Linked DNA regions of Homo sapiens. The protein of the gene in region 3 interacts with the protein of the main gene of each other region in a pairwise test. Each region holds a gene or a part of one and is shown on either strand. Other genes may lie near its edges.

Region 1 (7,034 bases), about 85 Mb from region 3:
ACTAGCCACCACCAACCTGCTTCCTCCCTAAGAGTAACCTGCCAAAGGGAAGCCAATGGCTGGGGTTTCTGGAGAGTAGGCAGACCCCTGAGCCTGACCAAGCCAAACTGAAACGTAGATGAATAATGGAATGTGAATGACACCCTGTTGTTTAACAACAATCATCTAGCCTTTCTCACTTCTGTCTCCCATCTTTGCCCTGCGCTCACCTTCTATTGTCTACTGTGATGGCAGAAATTGCCTCCAGACTCTAGCCATTGAGAAGTATTCCTGCTCCAGGGCCATGCTAACCTCAGAGCAGAGTAGAAGCATCCTCTGGGACTCTAGTGGTCCCACCTGGCCCCTCCACAGAAATGTATCTTACCTTTGGATGTTTGGCTTCAGTTGTTTTCTGGTGTCCAGAAGGATGACTATTTGTCCAGAGAGAGAGACATTTGTCACAGTGCCCTGACTTGAAGCTGAGCATGGGGAAGTTGTTCTGGATACTCTGATGAACTCCTATCCTTTATCCCTTAGTATTTTATGCAAGTGTGAAGGGGTTCCAGGGAGATAAAAGTCATGGACCAGGAGGGTTTTAGCTAGTATGATAGACTTCAAAATGTTTTTAAGACACCATGGTGTACAAATGACCGGCCCAAAGAGGCCAGCTGACATCCTAGAGAGAGCCTGGTGAAGTTCGCCTGAGCTATCCCATTCACACCTGCTTTTCCCTGGATTTGTGTTTAATTCTTGGCTTTCATCCTCGATTTGCACTTTGGCATTGGTCCTGAATTCCAGCCTTCTGGTTCTCCCTCTGAAAAAAGTCCTGGTGACTCCTATGAATGCCTATAATTTCCCCTGCTGCCCAATCAAACCCTGCTCCCTAGATCTTGGACAGAAACTAATGCTTAGCCACATACTCCTGTTACGGGCCCAGGGTGTCCTGGACTTATTTTCTATCATGTACTCTTCAAGCAGGTAGTGATTGTCAGGACTTATTGGGGTTGCACCTTTGAAGTAGGTAAAAAAATAGAATTAATTATTTCTTATACTCACCCATTGACATCACATATTCTCGCACAATTGGGATCCAAAATATCCTTTCTAAGGTCCCTACAAAGGGAGTGATGGATGGGAAAATCCGAGCAATGCCAGTGGCCTCAGTGGCAAAGTTGATGAAGACACCAAAAGAGAGAATGCCATGGGGGTGATTGGCAATGATGTAGTTGTGTTTGGGAGAAAGATCATGAGTCTTCACCAGCTGTTAGAGGGAAATTGAGTCAGAGCATTGGCTACAAAGAAGGAAGAAACCACGTGTGGACTAAAATCCCAGCAGGTAGCCTATGTTTCCCTCTGGGAGCCCCAAATCCCTGTTCACTAGGTTGTCATCATTGTCATAGGATTGCCAGGGCTCACGATGGTCAGAGAGGCTGACCTGGGTTTGCCAGTGAAGGAAAGGCTGCCATCCACCTGTTTCCCCACCTGCCCATCCATCTTGGGCCCTTGCTTTGCATTATGACTCGGGGCCTTGACCTTCGCTGCTGACCACCAAAGCCTCTGAAAACATGGAGCTGAGTAGGGAGCAAGGGTCTGGGCAACAGGGACTGAGGGCACCCCGAGGAAGAGTGGTCACCTTTACTGGGAAGTAATTTCGGAAATACTTCCATAGGGTCCAGTTTCGTACCCAAGCTGAACGCCTGCCACCTGTGGGTACAGAAGGGAAGGGAAGAGTACACAGGGCATTGCAGTCCCTCTACCTCTCCCAGAGGAGGAGAGTTCTGCCTGCAGTCCTCAGGTCACGTGAGGGGCCTCCTTCTGACACCTCAGAACTGTAAGTACTGTCCCTGAATCCAATCCCCAAGACATAGGAAGCCCCTGCTCCTCTAGAGCCGACCAGAAAGGTGACAGGAAAATAGTCTGAAGCTGGGGGCACCTGCCCAGAGACCTCAACCTCATAATTCTTCCTGAGCTACCTGGTAGAGACCTCTGTCCCTGCTGAGCTTTGCTCTCCCTTCTCCCTCCCCTTCCTTCCCCTCTCCCCTACCCTTGGTTCTCCCCCTCTCCCTCCACCTCCCTCTCCCTGTCCTTCCATTCTTGGCCCAAACAGGACCACCATTGTGCCCCTGTCTCTTACCTTGACTGTGGGTGTTCCAATCATAGGTGAGCCAGGCTAAGGAGAGCACAGCCAAGGGCCAGAACTTACTGAATAACAGAAAGTAGGGTATAAGGAGAATGGGAATAGCTCCTGGGGAGACACAAAGGGTTCAAGCCTTTCAGTTCCCTTCAAGTTTTAGTATACTTCTCATAACCCCGGCCTCTGCTCTACACTACAGGAGCAGGGCTAGGCTGATGTGGGACTCTTCTCTCCTTCTCCCCTCTTCCCCAACCCCTCGCCCTCCATTTGTCTCTGCTGTGGTCTAGGCAGGCCTCTGAAGCCCCTGGATCTGGGTCTCCTTGATGGCCAAACTCTCAATTGAAGAAAGAGCAGAACCATGAAGTTGAGGTCAAAGGACAGCACGGCTTGGTGAATGGGAAGAAGAGCACATTGGGCTGGTAGCTGAATCCCCATTCTGGGACCTCTGGAAATTCTTTCTAAAAGCTTGACCCTCTTTCCTGTGCTGAACTGATAAGTCTGCATATTCCAGCAGGGAGGTTACCCGCAGTGTACAGGCTGTTTGATGCTGAAAAGTAAACACGGATTAAAAACCACTCCACTTTGGGAGGCCGAGGCAGGCAGATCACGAGGTCAGGAGATCGAGACCATCCTGGCTAACACGGTGAAACCCCATCTCTACTAAAGATACAAAAAATTAGCCGGGCATGGTGGCACATGATTGGAGTGCTACTCGGGAGGTGGAGGCAGGAGAATCGCTTGAACCCAGGAGGTGGAGGTTGCAGTGAGCTGAGATCGTGCCATTGCACTCCAGCCTGGGCAACAGAGCAAGACTCCGTCTTGAAAAAACAAAACAAAACAAAACAAACAACAACAACAACAACAAAACTGCCCTACTAGGCCAGGTGCGGTGGCTCACTCCTATAATCTTAGCAATTTGGGAGGCCAAAGTGAGAGGACAGCTTGAACCTAGGAGTTTGAGACCAGCCTGGGCAACAAAGCAAGACAGTATCTCTAAAAAACCAAAAAAACAAAAAACAAAACAACAACAACAAAAAACACTTTACTGTGTTCATTTTGTTCCATTCAAAAGTATCACAAAGGTTCAGAAGGGGAAGTCTGTGTTAGCAAATGGCCATAGCAGGCTGTAACTGCAAACACGATACATGTTACAGCAGTGCGAATGAATTCCATTTAAAAAATCTGCATTCATGAGAAAGAGGGGCTAAGTATACATATGGTGAATAAAAAAAGACTTAGCTAAGGGAATGACTTCTTTGACCAGGTACCATGTCATAGCAGATAAAAGTTTCAGGGAAGAAGAAACTCGGGAGTTACCTACCAGTTCTTTGTCTCTTGCATTTTGGACATAAATGAAAATAGCAGGAAAAAGGCTGAGTGGACAGTGCTTTAAAAAGTCATGTTATGGAGTAGAAGAAACCTTTGTAATAGGCTGAATTGCCCTCATAAGCACTGGTCGAGATAGTTGTTGTAAGCATTCAAATTAGACAGGAAAGCGTGGTGGGAGGAGTTTTATGGGAAGCCTGCCATGGAGAAAAAGCCTTGCTATCTATGCCCTTCATCAAAGAGGAGAGTAAATTTGCCAGTTAAGCTTCAGAAGGAAATTCAGATAAAGTTAAATAAGAATAATCACTAATTAAAGTTAGCCTAAGTGTATCATTTCTTTTATATTTTGTTTCAAATAAATTTTGTTTGTTTCCCCAGTATTTAGAAGAGAGCTTGGCACACAGTAGGTGTTCAACAAATATCTGTAGACCAATTGAAAACGAAATAAGCAAATGTTTTCTCTTTTCAGTAGTAAACTTGATAATTACTATTTAGTCAGCATGTATAGTGTTATTTAAATGTGATGTTATTTTAAAAGCATAGACGGATTAGTTGTGTGCCTTTTATCTGATTCATTCATCCACCAGTCCTAAAGGCGGTCTAAGAGCCCTTACCTGGGTAACACCATCCCCCTTGTGGAACCTATTGGAACTGCAGATATGACCCGGCAGGAGACGAGGAACGTTTTTTTCAGAGCAAGGCTTCCAGACCCAGCCCGAGTGTCATCAGTGTCGTGCACGGTAACAAAAGTGGAATTTAAAGATATAGGAGAAATAGAAGCCAAATGTGGAAGAGCTAAGTCTCATGTAAAAAGAGTTCCGTGACATAAAGCAAGGGTATCTGAAGAAGGAATGATGAAGAACAAGCATTTATGTATGTGTGACACTCCCTTAGGTATTATGGCCTTGACACCAGAAGATGGTTCCAATTTCTCTTGTCACGTTCAAGTGAGGCGTCTTGGAGAGGGTTATCAAAGAGGAAGTTCACATAGGTAGGCTCCTAATTTAGTTTGTAGTGAAGATGGCCAAGCCATTCTAATATATGTGCACTGGGGGAAAAGAAAAGAAAAAAAAAGAAGAAAAAAAAACTAATATATGCGCATTGGTAGCTCATCATAATTTTAACTTGCATTTCTCCAATAGCTAGTGATGCGTAACAGCTTTTCATGTGCTTGTCTGCTTTCTGTATATCCTCTTTGGTGAAGTGTCCATTCAAATCTTTTGCCCATTTTTCAATTGGGTTGTTTTCTTACTGTTGACTTTCGGTAGTTCTTTATGCATTTTGGATATAAGTTTTTTTGTCTGATATGTGATTTGCAAACATTTTCTCCTAATCTGTGTCTATCTTTTCATTCTTGTTAACAGGGTCCTTTTTACAGCAAAAGCTTTTAATATTGATGAAGCCCAACTTATTAATTTTTTTTCTTTTATAGATTGTGCTTTTGGTGTCAAACTGAAAGAACTCTTTGTCTAACCTCATGTCATGAAGATTTTTCCCCTATATTTTCTTTTCTTTTCTTTCTTTCTTTTTTCTTTTTTTTTCTTTTTTCTTTCTTTTTTTTTTTTTTTTGAGACAGGATCTGGTTCTGTCACCCAGACTGGCGTTCCATGGCGTGATCTCGGCTCAACTCACTGCAACCTCCGCTTCCTGGGCTCAAGCGATCCCCCCACTTCAGCCTCCAGAGTGGCTGGGACTACAGGAGCATGCCACCACACCCAGCCAATTTATTTTGTATTTTTTTGTAGAGACAGGGTCTTGCTATGTTGCCCTGGCTAGTTTCAAACTCCAGGTCTCAAGTGGTCCTCCTGCCTTAGCCTCCCAAAGTGCTGGGATTACAGGTGTGAGCCACTGCCCCTGACCTCCCCTGTGTTTTCTACTAAACATTTTACAGTTTTCTTTTTTTACATTTAGATCTACAATACACTTCAAGTTCATTTTTACCAGTTTTATGGAGGTATAATTTACAAATAAAAATGGTGTATATTCAATGTGCACAATGTGATGATTTGAGACAGGTATACATTGTGTGATGATTACAACAATCAAATTAATCAATACATTCACCACCATACATAGTTACCCTTTGTGTGTGTTTGTGGCTAGAGGTGAGGATACTTAAGATCCACTCAGCAAATTTCAAGCATATAATACAGTATTATTAATGCTGCTATACTTTAGATTCCCAGAAATTATTCTTTTTGTAACTGAAATTTTGTGCCCTTTGACAAATTTTTCCTTATTTTCCCTCTGCCCCAGCTCCTGGCAGCCACCATTCTATTCTCTGCTTCTATGAATTTAATTTACATTTATTTACAAATATATATATTTAGAGACAGGTTCTCTCTGTGCTGCCCAAGCTGGTCTCAAATTCCTGAGCTGAAGTGATGCTCCCACCTCAGCCTCCTGAGTAGCTAGGATTACAAACATGTGACACCACATCCAGCTCTAATGAGATCATATGGTATTTTTCTTTCTGTGTCTAGCTTATTTCACTTAGCATAGTATCCTCCTGGTTCATCCATGTTATTGCAAATGGCAGGATCTCCTTTTTATGGCTGAATAATATTCGTGTGTGTGTGTGTGTGTGTGTGACACTTTCTTTATTCATTCATCTGCCAGTGGACACTTAGGTCGATCCCACGTCTTGGCTATTACTAATAATACTGCAGTGAACATGGGGGTGCAGATATTTCTTCAAGACACTAATTTCATTACTGTTGGAAACTCCCCACTATTTTCCATACTGGTTGTAACAATTTACATACCTACCAACAGTGTACAAAGATTCCCTTTTATCTATATCCTCACCAAAACTTACCATTTGTCTTTTTGATAATAGCTATCCTAACAGGTGTAAGGTGATATCTCACTGTGGTTTTGATTTGCAGCTCCCTGATGACTAATAATGTTGAGCCCCTTTTCATATACCCTTTGGCTATTTGTATGTTTTCTTTGGAAAAATGTCTATTCAAGTCCTTTGCCTATTAAAAAGTTTATGTTATTTTATTTTTTTCTATTGAGTGGTATGAGTTCTTTATATATTTTAGAGATTAACCCCTTATAAGAGATATGGTTTGCAAATATTTTCTTCCATTCTGTGGGTTGCCTTTTCATTTTGTTGATTGTTTCCTTGGCTAGGCAGAAGATTTTTAGTTTGAGGTACTCCTGCTTGTTTATTTTTGCTTTTGTTGCCTGTGCTTTTGTTGTCATATCCAAAAAATCATTGTCAAGGCCAATGTCAAGGAGCTTTTTCCCTATATTTTCTTTTAGGAGTTTAGTGATTTCAGGTCTTACATTTAAGTCTTTAATCCATTTTGAGTTAATGTTTGTGTATGTCATAAGGTAAGAGTCTAGTTTCATTATTTTGCATGAGGATGTCTAGTTCAACACCATTTATTGAAGAAACTATCCTTTTCCCATTGTGTATTCTTGGGACCCATTTCAAAGATTAGTTGACTATAAATGCATGGGATTATTTCTGGGCTATCTATCTTATTTCATTGGTTTCTGTGTCTGTTTTTATGTCAGTACCATAGTGTTTTGATTACTATGGCTTTGTAATATAGTTTGAAATCAGGAAGTGTGATGCCTCTAG
Region 2 (7,823 bases), on a different chromosome or scaffold from region 3:
ATGTGTTAGACAATTTTCTTTTCATTTTCTCAGAAAAATGGGAGCAAATCTATGCAATAATATCACATGTATAGATCTGTGCAAACACAACCACAATTGTAACACTTACATTTATTTTGGCCAGGGCACAGTAGCTCATACCTGTACTCCCAGCAACTTGGGAGGCGAAGGTGAGAAGATTGCTTGAGCCCAGGAAATTGACATTGCTGTGAGCTAGGATTTTACCACTGCCCTCCAGCCTAGGAAACGGAGCAAGACTCCATCTCTTAAAAAATACATATTTATTTTATTATTTTATTTTTATTTTATTTAATTAACTATTTTTTTTTGAGACAGGGTTTCCCTCTTTTTGCCCAGGTTAGAGTGCAGCGGTGGAATTAGAGGTGTAAGCCACTGCACTGGGCCAAAATATTATTTTAAAAAGAAAATTCTGGGGCTGGGCGCGGTGGCTCACGCCTGTAGTCCCAGCACTTTGGGAGGCCGAGGTGGGTGGATCACGAGGTCGGGAGATCGAGACCATCCTGGCTAACATGGTGAAACCCTGTCCCTACTAAAAATACAAAAAAATTAGCCAGGCGTTGGTGGTGGGTGCCTGCAGTCCCAGCTACTCGGGAGGCTGAGGCAGGAGAATGGCATGAACCCAGGAGGCGGAGCTTGCAGTGAGCCAAGATCGAGCCACTGCACTCCAGCCTGGGCGACAGAGCAAGACTCCATCTCAAAAAAAAAAAAAAAAAAAAAAAAAAAAAAAAGAAAGAAAGAAAGAAAAGAAAAGAAAAAGAAAAAGAAAACTTTGGCCAGGCAGGGTGGTCCACGCCTGTAATCCCAGCTACTCAGAAGGCTCAGGCAAGAGAATCGTTTGAACCTGGGAGGTGGAGGTTGCAGTGAGCCGAGATCATGCCATTGCACTCCAGCCTGGGGGACAGAGCAAACGCCATCTCAAAAAAAAAAAGAAAAAAAAAGGAAACTTTGTAACCCTACCGTGAATGGAAAGTAGATTTGGCTTACCATGAATACAAGCTTATCAAAAAATAAATACAATGTAAACAAATCATGTTACTAAATTCTAACAGAATATTGTTGCCTAATGAAGGGCTTTTCTTTTCTTTTTTGTCAAAGTCATTAAGTGTTAAGAGACATAGAACATATTAGCACTGACTGAGCCTCTCTTCTCCAAATATTGGAAATTGAAAAAGTTGATTACTTTCAGACACCACAGTGATTTTTTTTTTTTTTTTGAGAGGGAGTCTCACCCTGTCGCCCAGGCTGGAGTGCAGTGGTGCAATCTCGGCTCACTGCAACCTCCGTTTTCTGGGTTCAAGCTATTCTCCTGCCTCAGTCTCCTGAGTAGCTGAGATTACAGGCGCGTGCCACCACACCAGGCTAATTTTTGTATTTTTAGTAGAGACGGGGTTTCACCATTTTGGCCAGGCTAGTCTTGAACTCCTGACCTCAAGTGCTCCACCTGCCTCAGCCTCCCAGAGTGCTGGGATTACAGGGGTGAGCCACCATGCCCGGCCAGTTCAGTGATTTGGAATGCAGGGCAACATAGCACCACAATTTATCTTTCTTTTTCTTTTTTTTTTTTTTTTTTGAGTCGGGGTCTCGATCTGTCGCCCGGGCTGAAGTGCAGTGGCGTGATCTCGGCTCACTACTACCTCCACCTCCCAGGTTCAAGCGATTTTCCTGCCTCAGCCTCCCAAGTAGCTGGGACTACAGGCGCCCGCCACCATGCCTGGCTAGGTTTTTATATTTTTAGTAGAGACGGGGTTTCACCATGTTAACCAGGATGGTCTTGATCTCCTGACCTCGTGATCCGCCTGCCTTGGCTTCCTAAAGTGCTGGGATTACAGGCATGAGCCACCGTGCCCAGCCCACAATTTATCTTTTTATGGAAACATCGTGTCAGCTCACTAACTCTTCACAACAGGCTTGAGAGGGCAGTACCATTATCATTTTCACCACCTTACAGGTGAGGAAACTGAGGCATCATAGAGGTGGTGTTCCTTGCCTGTCTCTATCACTTCCTAACTGTGTGACCTATGGTAAGTTCCTTAACTTCTCTGGGCTTTAGTTTCCTTGCTAGTGATTACTAGCAGGAGATAGGATCGCATGAGCTCAGGAGATCAAGCAAGGCTGCATTGAACTATGATTGCGCCACTGCACTCCAGCTTGGGCAACAGAGCAAGACCCTGTCTCAAAAGAGAAAAAGAGGCCAGGCACAGTGGCTCAAGCCTGTAATCCCAGCACTTTGGGAAGCCGAGACAGGTGGATCACCAGAAGTCACGAGTTCGAGACTAGCCTGGCCAACATGGTGAAACCCCGTCTCTACTAAAAATACAAAAATTAGCCGGGCATGCTGGCGGGTGCCTGTAAATCCAGCTACTTGGGAGGCTGAGGCAGGGGAATCGCTGGAACCTGGGAGGCAGAGGTTGCAGTGAGCTGAGATCATGCCATTGCACTCCAGCCTGGGTGACAAGAGTGAAACTCTATTTCAAAAAAAAAAAGAAAAGAAAAAGAAAAAAAAGAAAAAGAAAAGGGATAACAATAGTTCCTGGCGCTTAGGATTTTTTCTTTTTTTTTTAGACAGAGTCTTTCTCTGTCACCCAGGCTGGAGTGCAGTGGTGCAATTTTGGCTCGCTGCAAGCTCCGTCTCCTGGGTTCATGCCATTCTCCTGCCTCAGCCTCCTGAGTAGCTGGGACTATGGGCACCCACCATCACGCCCAGCTACCTTTTTTGTATTTTTAGTAGAAATGGGGTTTCACTGTGTTAGCCAGGATGGTCTCAATCTCCTGACCTTGTGATCCTCCCGCCTTGGTCTCCCAAAGCACTAGGATTACAGGCGTGAGCCACAGCACCCGGGGTAGGATTGTTAAGAACATTAAATGAAGGCCGGGCACAGTGGCTCACGCCTGTAATCCCAGCACTTTGGGAAGTCGAGACGGGCAGATCACAAGGTCAGGAGTTTGAGGCCAGCCTGGTCAATATGGTGAAACCCCGTCTCTACTAAAAATACAAAAATTAGCTGGGCATGGTGGCAGGTGCCTGTAGTCCCAGTTACTCAGGAGGCTGAGGCAGGAGAATTGCTTGAACTAGGGAGGTGGAGGTTGCAGTGAGCCAAGATCATGCCACTGCACTCCAGCCTGGGAGACAGAGTGAGGCTCCATCTCAAAAAAAAAAAAAAAAAAGAACGTTAAATGAGATAATACTGAAAATCAAGCACTTAAAAAAAGAAAAATTATATAATATATAATATTAATTATTATATTAAATTATATTAATCACATTAAAATAATATACTAAAATATTTAAAATATTATATAACAATAGTATTTTTAATATAATAATTTTATATTTTAATATAATATTGCTATTATATAATAAATAATTATATTATTATTGTTATGCACACTTGCTAACCGCTTGCTAAGGCCAGGCTCTTTTATTATAATAATAATAATTATTATTATTCCCACAAAGTTGACTTAAAGTTCAAGGTCAGCTTCAGTAAGAAAACCCTGTAATCCCAGCACTTTGGGACAGAGCAAGACTCCATCTCAAAAAAAAAAAGAAAACCCATTACCATCCATCAAGTGCCTACTCTAGCATAGGCAGTGGGCTAAGCCTTTGTACATGCTTTATCTCTGTCTTCCTTTGTTACAGTTGGCTCTGTCACCATCGTCTCCATATGACAGGTGAGCAAACAGAGGATCAGAGAGGTAAATTCACTTGCCCAAGGTCACACAGCTTAAAGTAGAGGAACTCAGGCCAGGTGAGGTGGCTCATGCGTATAATCCCGGCACCTTGGGAGGCCAAGGTGGGCAGATCACCTGAGGTCAGGAGTTCGAGACCAGCTTGACCAACATGGTGAAATCCTATCTCTACTAAAATACAAAAAAAATTAGCTGGGCATGGTGGCAGGTGCCAGTCATCCCAGCTACTTGGGAGGCTGAGGTAGGAGAATCGCTTGAACCCAGGAGGTGGAGGTTGCAGTGAGCTGACATTGCGCCACTACACTCCAGCCTGGGTGACAGAGCCAGACTGCATCTCAATTTTAAAAAAAAAGGCCGGGCACGGTGGCTCACGCACACCTATAATCCCAGCACTTTGGGAGGCCAAGGCAGGTGGATCACGAGGTCAGGAGATCGAGACCATCCTGGCTAACACAGTGAAACTCCATCTCTATTAAAAATACAAAAAATTAGCCGGTCGTGGCGGTGGGCGCCTGTAGTCCCAGCTACTCGGGAGGCTGAGGCGGGAGAATGGCGTGAACACGGGAGGCAGAGCTTGCAGTGAGCTGAGATCATGCCACTGCACTCCAGCCTGGGCAACAGAGCGACTCTGTCTCCAAAAAAAAAAACAATTAGCTAGGCATGGTGGCAGCATGTGCCTGTGGTCCTGGCTACTTCAGAGGCTGAGGCAGGAGTATTGCTTGAGCCTGGGAGTTTGAGGCTGCGGTGAGCTATGATGATGCCACTGTACCCCAGCCTGAGCAACAGAGCAAGGCCCTGACTCTAATAAATAAATACATACATACATAAAAGATAAAAACAGTTCCCTCCACTGCCCCCACCCCGATTCCTATTCCTGGGTAATCTGGATGGGAGGCCTCTTCCCTGCCTACTTCTGCCCCCTGCCCTGCCTGGACAGTGCCAGTCCCACGGCTTATGCTCAGGGCTGCTGTCACTGCACAGCCAGGCTGCCCTGGTGCAACTGGGGAGCGGCCCAGCAGGTTTTTCCTCCCAGTCTGCCTGCCGCGGGGCACCGGGCTGTCCTCTCCCCGCCTCATCAGGGCCCAGCCTTCCCAAGCTCGCCTTCTCTCTGCCGGGCGCAGCCGGCTGGTGGTGGCCACTGAGACAAGATGCCTAGCATCTTCGCCTATCAGAGCTCCGAGGTGGACTGGTGTGAGAGCAACTTCCAGTACTCGGAGCTGGTGGCCGAGTTCTACAACACGGTGAGTGCGTGGGTGTGTGAAGGAGTCTCGCCAGATGCCGGTTCGAATCCCGGTTCCTCCCCATACAGCCTTACTGGGGAATCTTGCTGGAGTGGTTCACCTGTCTCAGCCCTAGTTTTCTCATCTGTTAGCCAAAGAGTGCCAGCTTTCATTCATTTACTTGTCTTTACTTGATGCCAAGCTCTGTGGTAGGTTTTGGAGACACATTGGTGGCCAGGAAAAGAACCGGTCTCTGCCTTCCCTAAGCTAACTCTGATGTGACTGCAGGCATTTGCAACCGGGAGCGATGGTGCCTTCTTGGAGGGCACAGAGGCAGCTGTGGTAGGGGGAGGCAGAGGGTGCCCCTGAGCTAGAGGGGGTGGGCCAATCAGGAAAGGCTTCCTGGAAGAGGTGATTGTGTCTGTCTTGTTTGCAGCTGTACCCACTGACCAACTTGTCCCAGTGTGCCTGGGACTATCCTGGTTTCAGTATTTAAAAAGTTTCACCTCTTGGCTGGGCGCGGTGGCTCACGTCTGTAATCCTAGCACTTTGGAAGGCCAAGGTGGGTGGATTGCCTGAGCTCAGGAGTTGGAGATCGCCCTGGGCAACGTGGTGAAAGCCCATCTCTACTAAAATAAAAAATTAGCTGGGTACGGTGTCAGGCATCTGTAGTCCAAGCTACTCAGGAGGCTACGGCATGAGAATCGCTTGAACCCAGGAGGCGGAGGTTGCAGTGAGCTGAGATTGTGCCACTGCACTCCAGCCTGGGTGAAAAAGCGAGACTGTCTCAAAAAAAGAAGAAAAAAAGTCCCACCTCCTGAGAAACTCCTCAGTTCTGGACATTCTGAGGTGGTCTTCTCTTTCCCTGTTAAAACACCACATGGGAAGTGCTAAAAAATCATGGATGTACCTAGCACCATGGCTCATGCCTGTAACCCCAGCAATTTGGAACGCAGAGGCAGGAAGATCGCTTGAGCCCAGGAGTTCCAGACCAGCCTGGGCAACATAGCAAGACCCTGTCTCTACAAAAAGTTTTTAAAAATTAGCTGGGTGTGGTGGTGTGTGCTTGTAGTTCCAGCTACTTGGGAGGCTGAGGGGGGAGGATTTCTTGAACCCAAGAAGTGGAGGATGCAGTGAGCTGAGGTCATACCACTGCACTCCAGCCTGGGTGACAGAGGGAGACCCTGTCTCAAAAAAAAAAAAAAAAAAAAAAGGCCGGGCGCGGAGGCTCACGCCTGTAATCACAGCACTTTGCGAGGCCAAGGTGAGTGGATCACCTGAGGTCAGGAGTTCGAGACCAGCCTGGCCAACATGGTGAAACCCCATCTCTACTAAAAATACAAAAATTAGCCAGGTTTGGTGGCAGGCACCTGTAATCCCAGCTGCTTGGGAGGCTGAGGCAAGAGAATGGCTTGAACCCAGGAGGCGGAGGTTTCAATGAGCCGAGATCGCACCATTGCACTCCAGCCTGAGGGACAAGAGCGAGACTTCGTCTCAAAAAAAAAAAAAAAAATAGGAATGCACAAATGATCACGGCATTTAGCCAAAGCTTAAAGCCAAAGATCAGTGCAGCTATGCCATGCCCATACTGGGTGCTGGGAACACAGAGGTGTTTGCCTGGAGCCCTGGGAATGATGGGATCCAGGCATAGTGCTTAGTTCTTTTGTTTGTTTGTTTGTTTGTTTTGAAACGGAGTCTCGCTTTGTCACCTAGGCTGGAATGTAATGGCGCGATCTCGGCTCACTGCAACCTCTGCCTCCCGCGTTCAAGCCATTCTGCTGCCTCAGCTTCCCGAGTAGTTGGGATAACAGGTTCCCACCACCACGCCTGGCTAATTTTTGTATTTTTAGTAGAGACAGGGTTTCACCATGTTGGCCAGGCTGGTCTTGAACTCCCGACCTCAGGTGATCCGCCCACCTCAGCCTCCCAAAGTGCTGGGATTACAGGCGTGAGCCACGGCGCCCGGCCTCGTAGTGCTTAGTTCTATGCCCTGCACATAGGCCTTGCTCAGTGAGCAGAAGAGTGCTTGCTGGCTGGGTGCTATGGCTCACGCCTGTAATCCCAGCACTTTGGGAGGCCGAGGGGGGTGGATCATGAGGTCAAGAGGTCAAGACCATCCTGGCCAACGTGGTGAAATGCCGTCTGTGCTAAAAATACAAAAAATTAGCCAGGCATGGTGCCGGGCGCCTGTAGTCCCAGCTACTCAGGAGGCTAAGGCAGGAGAATCACTTGAACCCGGGAGGCAGAGGTTGCAGTGAGCCAAGATTGTGTCACTGCACTCCAGCCTGGTGACAGAGCGAGACCTCATCTCAAAAAAAAAAAAAAAGTGCTTGCTGTGTACCAGGCATGACCCTAAACATTTTACGTGAAACACCTCCTTTAATCTGCACAGTGACATGGGGAGTTAGATGCAATCTATATGATACAGACTTCATCCCATTTTCCAGGTGATAAAACAGGTGTTCAAGGAGTTTGAAGGCTGTGCCCAGGGTCACCCTGGTTATTAGAGCCAGGATTTAAACTTGGTGAGTCCAGGAGACTTTTCTGGGAGGAGAGTCCGAGGCTCAGGTTGCTCTGACCCTGTTGCCTTTCACCCCGGGGCTTCCCATACCTGGGAAGTGGGATTATGAGACTCCAGGATCCTCACGGTCTCACTGATTCTTGCTCTTCCTTAGCCAGAGATATGGTTCCCGGTCCTCAGTAGTCCCACCTCTAACATGGGAGGGAGCTGAATGATTGGTCCTACGAGGCTGAGATGATGGGTAAGGGCTCTAGAGCTCTTCTCTCTGGAATCCCCAGCAGCCACTGTGGTCCAGTGTTCTGTTTTCATCCTGCACCCAGATGAGAGCCCTTGCAGAAGGCACTGAGAGGCTGGGTATGGTGGCTCTCACC
Region 3 (3,336 bases):
TGGCGTGTGCCTGTAATCCCAGCTACTCGGGAGGCTGAGGCAGGAGAATCCCCTGGAACCTGGGAGGTGGAGGTTGCAGTGAGCCGAGATCCTGCCACTGCACTCCAGCCTGGCAAAACAGACTGTCTCAAAAAAAAAAAAAAAAAAAAAAAAAAAAAAGCGCTCTTGGATGCAGCGAGGCGAGGCCCTGAGCTGTAGCCATATCATGAGCCAGGCATGCAGGGTGGGCCCCAGCCCTGGCTCAGCGACCGGCCTCCACTGTACCACGGGACCCCAGGCTTGGATTTTCTCTCGTTCTAAATATGTGCCCACAATGAGCGCTCCACTAGCTACAACAACCTTAAGGGTGTTTTTCTACATGGGCACTAGCCAGTAGAGCCCTGCAGTGGGGGCAGAGAATGGGGACTCTTCCAGGGCACCAGTGTTTATCATCTGAACACAAGAGAGGCATCTTGTGTTAATGCTGTTGTCCAGGAGCTTAAGTGAAATGGGCCACATTTCTTTTTGTGTGGAAACCCAGAGTTACAAGGTCATTGGCATTTCAACACAGCATTTTTATTGCTTTTGAAGGTTTCCCTAGAGCAGACATCATTCTATTGCACAGATGTGTCATTTTGGCATTATAGAAAGTTGCAGTTAAAAACGCTTTCTCCAAAATAAAAAGACAAATGAAATACCCAGCATATACAGTTGAAGGCAAAGGAGGGCAGGCTTTAGAGGGATGGGGTCCATTGCTTTTGCTGTGCATCACCCTTGATTAGCAGTTACATTTTGGTAGTACTTCTTACCCCCAATTTCTAGAAATCCTTTTCAAATCCAGATCAGTGGGGCCCCATCTATCAGGAGAATCAACCCTTCAGGAGCCTGAGCAAGAAGACTGAACCTTACTGGCTGAATTAGGATAGCTGCAGAGAGCTGGAAGCTGACACAAAACTAGTTGGAGCAGCCCTGTTTGTCTTAAAGCAAGGCGGGTGGAATTCCAAATGCTGGAGAGGGGCATACAGTGGGTTCCCCCATTCTACAAGCTTAGTAAACCCAGGAGACAGGCACCCACTGTGGAGAACTGCACGCTTGGTCGAAGGCTTCTTGTAATTTCTTAAGGGTTTCATCAACACCATTATTGACCAGTGAGAGGTCAAAGTAGTGAGCGTACTGGCTGCGGATGGCCTCAGAGTCCTTCTGCAGCTGCTGCAGGGCTTCTGTCTGCAAAGAAGAAAGCCACAGATGAAGCAAGCTGCACCACCCCCAGCCCAGAGAGGCCAGTGACAGATTTTAAACAGCAATTGTTAGCGTTGCTCAGCTGTGCATCATACTTGACGAGTCAAATTCAGAAGACATTGTGAAAGAATGTTAATGTAGGGCATGAAGAGGCAATCTCAAAAGACCATGGCAATTCTCAGAGGATCTCAAGCTAACCCTGACTAATCAGAGTCCTCTGGAGGACCAATAGCTATGCAGAGACAGCATGGACTTCACCAGCATCTCCCACTTAATGCCCTTTGAACATGGAAGAGCCATTTCAACAACCACCAGAGCTGCAATCCTAAAACGAAGATAAAGGTGATTTTGTTGTTTTGTTTTGTTTTGAGACAGTGTCTTGCTCTGTGGCCCAGGCTGGAGTGCAGTGGCACAATCTCGGCTCACTGCAACCTCCGCCTCCCGGGTTCAAGCAATTCTCGTGTCTCAGCCTCCCGAGTAGCTGGGATTACAGGCATGCGCCACCACATCTGGCTAATTTTTGTATTTTTAGTAGAGACAGGGTTTTGCCATGTTGGCCAGGCTGGTCTGGAACTTTAGACCTCAGGTGATCCGCCCGCCTCGGCCTCTCAAAGTGCTGGGATTACAGGTGTGAGCCACTGCACCCAGTCAGATAAAGGTGACTTCTAATCCCAGATCACACCTGTAATCCCAGCACTTTGGAAGGCCAAGGCAGGATGATTGCTTGAGCACAGGAGTTCAAGACCAGCCTGGCAACACAGTGAGACCCCATTTCTACAAAAAACAAAATTTAAAAATGTGTGTGTATATATATCTCAGGACTCTGTCTTTGACCTAAAACCAAGCAGCCATGAAAGACAAATCATGTAACTACATAAAAGTAAAAATGTCTGCATAGCAAAAAGACATGCCAAATTGGAAAAAAATTGCAGCTGATATTACAAAGGGCTAATTACCCTAATATAGACTTCCTATAAATCAAAGGTCAATAACTCAGCAGAAAAATGAGCTAAGGGTATGACCAGATAATTCTCAGAAAAGGCAATACAAATTGCTCTTCATATGAAAAAGTACCTGATCATCTCTTTTAGTAAAAAAGAAATATGAGATACTATTTTTCCCTCCAGTAGACTGGCAAAAAAAGAAAATTTTGACAACATGCTGCAGGCAAAGAGAAACAAGCAGTCTCACAGGTGGTTGGCGGTCCCTGTCCAAATTCTAAGTGTGTGTGCTCTTGGACCCAGTGATCCTACTTGGAGTTTTTCCTACAGATATATTTGCACACATGTGCTATATGCACAGGGCTATTGACTGCAGTATTACACATGCATGCAGCAGAAGACCAAGCAGCTATAGAGAAAAAGAGTTCCTCACACCCTGATAGGGAAAGGTGTCCATTGTTCAATGCAAAAGCACAGTGCAGCAAAGTGCATGGGTAGGGCTGGGCAGAGGAGCAGGGTAGGCTTTTTGATATATTCCTGGCCTCTCTGTCTTTCCCCACAGCCATACTGCACCCCAGGGCGGGTTCAGTGCCACCTCTGTCCATCACAGCTTCCCCTGCCAGAGCCTGCATCCCACCAGTATCAGGATCTGCTCAACTGTCCATCTCTGCCCCTGGAACTGTGTGCCTCCAGGACGATGACTGGGTCTGGTTTGTTTTGTCCCTGTTAGGTAGCATGGGCACTGGCCTAGCTAGTGGCTTAAGAGCTGGAACGAATGTGCATACCCTTTGGCTTCTTGGCCCTGGAGGAAGAAGCCCAGCTGGAGCTGTGACCTCCAGCCAGCACTCTGGCCAATGACCTGGACTGAGGTCCCAGTATGGGCAGGCCCGGAGAAAGTGAACTACCCATCGCGCACAACCTCTCCTCACCTGAGTGCCCTGGTCAGTAGGTGCAATGAACACAATGAAAGGCGAAAGTTCTGCTGTCCGAACAATTTTCAGGGTCTAGAAAAAAAAAAGAAGGGCGGCGGGGAGGGGGGGGAAGGAAGAAAAGGAAAGTGAAAAAAAAAAACCTACATAGCTGTCATAATGGATTCCTTCTAATAAGCAGCTTTGAGCTTTACCCCAATACAACTTTCCATCATTCCCAGTACTACTGTTCTTGTTCCAGGCTGACC
Region 4 (6,971 bases), on a different chromosome or scaffold from region 3:
ATTGCTGGAACCCAGGAGGCGGAGGCTGCAGTGAGCCAAGATCGTGCCACTGCACTCCAGCCTGGGCGACAGAGCAAGTCTCTGTCTCAAACAAACAAATAAACAAAAAAACTACTTTTCTTCTTTTCATTCCTAGCAAAAATCCCCTCTCTGGACAAATACTACTCAAGGTCAGAATCTCCCTTTGCCCCCAGTTTTTCATTGAGGAGGCTGAGGATCTGAGTCTCTCTCTTTTTTTTTTTTTTGAGATCCAATCCAGTCTCACTCTGTTGCCCAGGCAGGAGTGCAATGGCATGATCTTGGCTCACCACGAGTCTCTTTCTTAATAACCAACCCCATTACCGGGTCAGGAGAAGCTGCTGCGCTGTGGCTGCATCAGGGCCTAGAGCCGGGCTGCCTGCCTCTGCTGCCCTGTGTGCTGGCGGATAAGGTAGGGAGGTTTGTTATGCCTCAGTTTCCTTAAAGGTAAAATGGGGTGTCAGTCGTCTCTACCTTGTGGCCTGGTTTTGGTTAATGAACTAATCTACACACATAACAAGGGCTCAACAAAGGTTAGCGATGACGTTTCCTGCCAATCTGAGCACCTGCACACTGGAACCCTGTAAACAGTTGAGGGTGGGTGGCTGACTTCCAGTTCCCTTCAAATGCTTCTCTGAGTGTCTGCGCACCTGCGGCTCTCCAGGGGCTCGACTCAGGTCTCAGTGATCACAGATTCTAATGAAGAAAGGGTCTGTCTCTGTCATCCAGGCTGGAGTGCAGGGGGCACGTTCATGGCTCACTGCAGCCTCGACTCCCACCTAAGCCTCCTGAGTAGCTGAGACTACAGGTGTGCTGGACCACACCCAGCTAATTTTAATTTTGTTGCCCAGGCTGGTCTGTCAGTGAAGTTTTACACCAGTGAGACAAACATAATATTTGGGGCTCATCTAAAAGCTCAAAGTGAGGCTGAAGGAGCCATCCAATGTTTAAATGAAGAGGTACATCATAATTCATTTTTAATAAGTATGCAGAGCTGGGTGGCTCATGCCTCTAATCCTGGCATTTTGGGAGGCCAAGGTGAGAGGATCGTTGAAGCCAGGAGTCTGAGAGTGGCCTGGGTAACAGAATGAGACCCCATCTTTACTAAATAAATAATAAATAAATAAATAGCTGGGCGTGGTGGTGCATGCTTATAGCCCTAGCTATTTGAGAGGCTGAGGTGGGAGGATCCCTTCAGGGATCCTGCAGTGAGCTATGATCATACCACTGCACTCCTAGCCTGGGTGACGGGGGGACACCCTTTTTCTAATAGTAATAATAAATTATAAAATATATAAATTATAAAATGTGTGCTTATGATAAATCTAAACATTACTACCTAACATACATAGAAATTTTATTGTAATAAAATTTCTTTACCCTTGCCCATTCACTATCATATCTTCACAGAGCCTTCTGGACTTGTATCTGCCTATGTTGTTTTCTGTTTTTTTTTTTTTTTTATTTGTTTGTTTGTTTTGAGACAGAGTCTCGCTCTGTCGCCCAGGCCAGAGTGCAATGGCTAGATCTCAGCTCACTGCAACCTCTGCCTCCCGGGTTCAAGCAATTCTTCTGTCTCAGCCTTCTGAGTAACTAGGATTACAAGAGAGCACCAGCACGCCCAGCTAATTTTTGTATCTTGTTTTAGCAGAGGTGGAGTTTCACCATGGCTGGTCTGGAACCCCCGACCTCAAGTGATCCACCCGCCTTGGCCTCCCAAAGTGCTGGGATTACAGGTGTGAGCCACTGCATCTGGTCTTTTTTTTTTTTTTTTTTTTTGAGATAGAGTCTCACTGTGTCACCTAGGCTGGAGTGCAGTGGCACAATCTTGACTCACTGCAACCTCTGCCTCCCAGGTTCAAGCAGTTCTCTGCCTTAGCCTCCCGAGTAGCTGGGATTACAGGCGCCTGCACCACGCCAGGCTAATTTTTTTTTTGTATTTTTAGTAGATACGGGGTTTCACCATCTTGGCCAGTCTAGTCTTGAACTCCTGACCTCGTGATCCACCAGCCTCAGCCTCCCAAAGTGCTGGGATTACAGACAGGTGTGAGCCACCGTGCCTGGCCATTTTTTGTTTGTTTGTTTGTTTTAAATAAAGCACATCATTGTATATTCACTGCTCTGCACTATTTTTATTTTTTAATTTAACAGATCTTGGAGACTATATCCTATCTGTGTACACAGAATTATCACATCACAACTTTAGAAAATGTTTTAAATTAAAAATGCTAAATGAATGTTCTAGAGTTTATTTAACCAAGTGTCTGGTTGTTCTCAGGCTTCCTGTGATTATAGGTATAGCTGTAAGTCAGCACATCCCTGTATCCACACATCCCGTGGTGCCTGTGAGAATTTATCTGTGGCACAGATTACCCAAAATGACATGAGGGGTGAGAGGTTTTACAAATGGTGAATTCCACGAGCTTTGCAAATCTTAACTCCTTTTTCAAGAATAAGGGAACTGTGAGTAGGACAGGTGCACGGTACTTTCATTTTATTTTAGTCTAAGTATTTTCTGAAATAATTTGAGGAGGCTTAAAGGGAGGTGCAAGCTGGGTGCGGGGGCTCATACTTGTAATCCCAGCACTTTGAGAGGAGGAGGTGGGAGAATACTTGAGCTCAGGAGTTCGAGATCAGCCTGGGCAACACCGTGAGGCCCCATTTCTACAAAAAAAATTTTTTTTAAATTAGCCAGACATGGTGGTGTGTGCCTGTGGTCCCAGCTACTTGGGAGGCTGAGGTGGGAGGATCACTTGAGCCCTGGAGTTCAAGGCTTCAGCGAGCTATGATTGTACCACTGCACTCCAGGGTGGGCGACAGAGCAAGACCCTGTCTCAATAATAATAAAAATAAAAAAAAAAAAAAGGAAAAAAAGGGGCACAGTAGACAGTACCAGTACTTGGTATTTTAAATGGTTTTCAAATGAAGCCCACCCAAGCTCAGCAAGTCCAGCCGGGGCCTGAGGACCTGAGCAGGCGCCAGGTCACACAAGGTACCGGGCGCAGGAGGCGGAGCCCGCAGCGGGCCCTGCCCTGACAGCGGCACCTGCGCGGCCTCCGCAGGTTCTGGGATCGGCCGCTGGCCAGGTGCAAGGGAGGGGGGACGGCAGCCGCTGTCCTGGGGCTGAGAGGGCTCCGCGGTCTGGAGGGGACGGCGTCAGCGCCCGCGGGGGTTCGCAGGGCAGCCCCGGGGCGACCCCCACCCCCGCCACGGTCAAGTGTCGATACAGTGTTGCCAGCCGGGTGCCAACTATGAATAAGTCCAAGGGCGCGGCACGTGGGCCGAAACGCGATCCTTCCGCGGAGCCGCTGCGCGCAGGGCCGTCCCCACCGAGCCCGCCGCGCGGCGACCCCTGACGGCGACCCTAAGCCCCGGCCGACCAGGGCAGGAGCTCGCGCGCGAAACTTCCCCGGCGCCCGCAGGAGACCCCGGCAGGGGAGATGGCGGGGCCCAGGCAGAGCTCGGAGGCCCCTCCCGGCCCCACCCCGCGCCCCGGCCCCCTCTGCCCCCGACCCGGTCCGGGGGAGCCCTCGCGGGACCCCAGCCTGGTCCTTCGCCGCCTCCCCCCGTTCAGCCCCGACCCCCCTGATCCCCGCGCCCCCCGCGGTCCCGGCCCGCCCCCTCCCCCAGCCCGGGCCCCAGCCCCGTCCGTTAGCGGATCCCACGCAGGCTCCGCGCCCGGCCCCGCCGGCGCCCTCGGCCCACACCTCTCTCCGCGCGCGTGTCCCGCCGTGTCGCCCCCGTGTCCCCTCCGCGTCCCCCCCCGCGCCGTCCCCCCGCGTCCCCCCCCGCGTCCTTCCCCCGTGTCCCCCCAGCGTGTCCCTCGGCCGCCCCGCGCGCGCCGGCGGAACTGTGGGATCGCCGCGCACAGGAAGTGGCGGCGGCGGCGCGGCCGAGGGCGGAGGGCGGAGGGCGGCGGGATGGGGGCCGGGGGCGGCGGGCGCCGCACTCGCTGAGGCCCCGACGCAGGGCCGGGCCGGGCCCAGGGCCGAGGAGCGCGGCGGCCAGAGCGGGGCCGCGGAGGCGACGCCGGGGACGCCCGCGCGACGAGCAGGTGGCGGCGGCTGCAGGTGAGCACCGAGGCCCCCACCCGAGGTCGGGCCGCCCCCCTCTTCCCCCACGCCCCGCCGCCGCCCGAGGTCGCCCTCCCGCCGCCGGAGGTCGCCCCTGCCCCAGCCGTCCGACCTCGGGCCGCCCGGGGCCCCGCGCCGCAATGGGCCGGCCGCGCTCCGCGGGGCGCGGGGCCTGGGAAGGCGCGGGGCCGGGAGGAGGTCTGGGCCCGGGTCCTGTGCGCCCCCCGCAACCCCGGCCTCCCCGGCGGCCTGGTCCAGCGCGAGGCCCCGGCCGCTTCCCGCAGCAGCCTCGGTGGCGCTGGGCCCAGCGGGGAGGCCCGGGGGTTCGGGGCGCCCGGGAGGGGCCCGGGCCGGGCCGAGGGAGGGCGAGTGGGTTCCCGCGGGGACGTCCCATCCCTCCGTCCTGGACTCTGCTCCGGGCCCCGCTCGGCTCCCCCGTGGACAGGACGCGCCCGCCGCCTGGTTTCGGGGCGCGGCGGACCCGGGACCCCCCCCAGGGGCCTCCTCCTCGCGCGCCCAGGCCAAGGGAGCAGTTTCACTTTTGCCGCTCCGCGCGGGGAGGGCTGCGGGGCCCGGGGTTGGCTGTGGGTTCGGCCCGGAGACCGGCGGCGCGTTTGCACCGGGCGGGTCAGGGGATGGGGTCAGTCCGGGGGCAAGAGCCGTGGGGGCGAAAACCCACTCCTGGCCACCCCAGGACCCTTGGAACATTGGTCCCAAGTACTTAGGAAAGGAGGGTTATTAGTATTTGAAGGCAGTTAAAAATGGTGCAGTGTTTTTTTTTTTTTTTTTAACTTTGAGAGAAGTTTAGTGACATGGGGAAAATGCTTTTATAAATGGCTTCCCAGACCTTTAAAAAAAAAAAAGCACAATTTTAAAAGCTTTGTCTAGGAGAATACTTGAGCAGTTGGGTTCTTTTTCCTGGGAAACATGATCTTAGTAGAAGAAAGATGTGGGCTGTTGGCCTCCAGACAGAGGGTGATGAGCATGCGGCTCTTATTAAAAATGAAAGCCAACGCCGAGAGCCTGCTGGGGGCTGGGAGGTGGGGCGGGCGGCGGGCCCAGGCTGCTAGAGGGACCCAGGATCCTGCAGCTTTTAAATTGCAGGCGCGGCTGCTCCGACTCGACTCGCTTAGGAATTGCTGAACTTCGTCTTCTCAGTTTGAAAGCTTCAGAGGGGTCTCCCGAGGATGCTGAGCACTCTCTTGATTTGGCCACTTCTTTGCCGCCCCCCCTCCCTCTTTCCAACCAATCCTCCTCCCCCACAGAGTTCGGCGTTAGCCTGTGCCTGTTACAACTCGCTTCTTGTATCCATTTCTGGTTAGTCTTAAGTATCTTCTTGAGGACATTGTCTAAAAAGCAGCTGCATGCCATTGACATTCAGACAGAACAGGGCCCCTTGGCCTTAGAAGGTGTAGGGGCCTTAAATATTCTGAAGGTGACTTCATGGAGTGGCCGCCCTCTGTGGTCACCCTACCTGTGCGTGGCCCTGTCCTGGCGTATCTGCCAGGGGGACGCGCTGCAGCAGCCTGAAGACTGCTGGGTTAAAGGCAGTGTGGCCGGGTGGGAAAGTCCCCAGGAGTGTGGATTCTAGAACAGGCCTTCCTGGAGGGAGGGTGCTGCCCCGCCCCAGGCTGGGGCCCCAGTGCAGACTCCACGCTGGGGAGCTACACCCTGCGCCTGGACGCGCGTCTGTGTGCCAGGACTGGGGAAGCAAACTGAAAGTAATGGCTTTATTTTGGAAATTAGAAAAAGAGCATTCACCAAAGTAATCTGTTCCGTCCCTGCCGTAGACACGTGACTGATACACCTGCCTCCCATCCCCTCCGCACTTTGACCTCGTAAACAAGTGATCTGACACAACAGGGCTTGAGTTACTTGCCCGAGGTTGTGTCACGGAACGGCAGGGCCGCCTTTAGGCTTACATCCCTGGAACTCCCACCTCCACAGACCCGTCCGGGTGCTGAAAGTCCACGGATGCTATCCCTGGTCAAATCAGAGGTAGGTGGGAAATGTTGGAATTCTCCTAAACAGGGAAGGGGAAGATCAGAATGTGTGTTTGAGAAGAGCCTGATTTCCTGGATTCCTTTGGAGGAGGGGTGTCCTTAACTTGCCCAATCACATTTACCCTGTTCATCAATCTTCAGCCCCGCTTAGGCTCTCACATTGCAGACCCCACGGCAGAGCCCCTAGTGCTTGGCACTGAAGAGCCAGTGCAGGCCCGTTGTCACCATCAAAACCCACCTCTGGTAAATTCAATGGCTTCTGCTTCCACGCTTTGCCCCCCCTCTCTGGCCTTGTCAAAAACTCTTGTGATGTCCCTGTTATAAGGTATCGCCGGTGGACTGGTGTTTCTAGATCGCAGCGTGGGACGTGATTGGCTACATTTGACTGTTTCCTTTTTAATGACTTGTTTAATGTGAGATCTTTAGCTGCTCCATCTCATTGCAAGATTTTTGTTACAGTAAAGTTGGACTGAGTTTTCTAAAGACAGTTGCTCAGAAATTTCATGGGAATTTACTTTTGGTTAACCGAAGAGTGTTTGGGGTTTTAAACGGGTCGTTTCAAGTGGTAAAGTAACATGACCACGAGGCGTCTGTCCTTCCTAAAACCACTTCATCATAATTTCAAGATTGATTCTAAATTACCAATTTCAAAGCGCTGCATTTTAGGCAAGTGCATTAATCGTTCACCTTCTGACAGGCTTTCATGTAGTCATTTACAAGCGGCCATGTTTTGATTATCTTTGTCAAGCAAAGTGCAGGAGACAGGCAGTCTCATAACCTTGGGGCAGTGTCTGTGTTTAGTTTTGGAGGCGGGAAGGCCGAGTTGATGGTGAAAGTTGGCCATTCTTTCTGCAGGGCCAAAGTCTGTACCTGGCTA

The links.
Region 1: the proteins of MPP1 (region 3) and DGAT2L6 interact in binary tests that used the Homo sapiens proteins (3 or more experiments, as listed by UniProt).
Region 2: the proteins of MPP1 (region 3) and ACER1 interact in binary tests that used the Homo sapiens proteins (3 or more experiments, as listed by UniProt).
Region 4: the proteins of MPP1 (region 3) and AGPAT3 interact in binary tests that used the Homo sapiens proteins (3 or more experiments, as listed by UniProt).

The regions. Positions count from the first base shown.
Region 1 is NC_000023.11:70,194,461-70,201,494, reverse strand, and holds part of DGAT2L6 (diacylglycerol O-acyltransferase 2-like protein 6), read right to left. Parts: intron 2,225-7,034; coding exon 2,114-2,224; intron 1,684-2,113; coding exon 1,613-1,683; intron 1,241-1,612; coding exon 1,036-1,240; intron 1-1,035. UniProt on the Homo sapiens protein: Diglyceride acyltransferase that uses fatty acyl-CoA as substrate. Particularly active with oleate as a substrate. Has no wax synthase activity to produce wax esters.
Region 2 is NC_000019.10:6,330,588-6,338,410, reverse strand, and holds the start of ACER1 (alkaline ceramidase 1), read left to right. Parts: upstream 1-4,798; 5' UTR 4,799-4,859; coding exon 4,860-4,952; intron 4,953-7,823. UniProt on the Homo sapiens protein: Endoplasmic reticulum ceramidase that catalyzes the hydrolysis of ceramides into sphingosine and free fatty acids at alkaline pH.
Region 3 is NC_000023.11:154,778,151-154,781,486, forward strand, and holds the end of MPP1 (55 kDa erythrocyte membrane protein), read right to left. Parts: intron 3,164-3,336; coding exon 3,089-3,163; intron 1,204-3,088; coding exon 1,027-1,203; 3' UTR 534-1,026; downstream 1-533. UniProt on the Homo sapiens protein: Essential regulator of neutrophil polarity. Regulates neutrophil polarization by regulating AKT1 phosphorylation through a mechanism that is independent of PIK3CG activity.
Region 4 is NC_000021.9:43,861,258-43,868,228, forward strand, and holds the start of AGPAT3 (1-acyl-sn-glycerol-3-phosphate acyltransferase gamma), read left to right. Parts: upstream 1-3,965; 5' UTR 3,966-4,088; exon of another isoform or gene 4,089-5,408; intron 5,409-5,881; exon of another isoform or gene 5,882-6,065; coding exon of another isoform or gene 6,066-6,089; intron 6,090-6,971. UniProt on the Homo sapiens protein: Converts 1-acyl-sn-glycerol-3-phosphate (lysophosphatidic acid or LPA) into 1,2-diacyl-sn-glycerol-3-phosphate (phosphatidic acid or PA) by incorporating an acyl moiety at the sn-2 position of the glycerol backbone.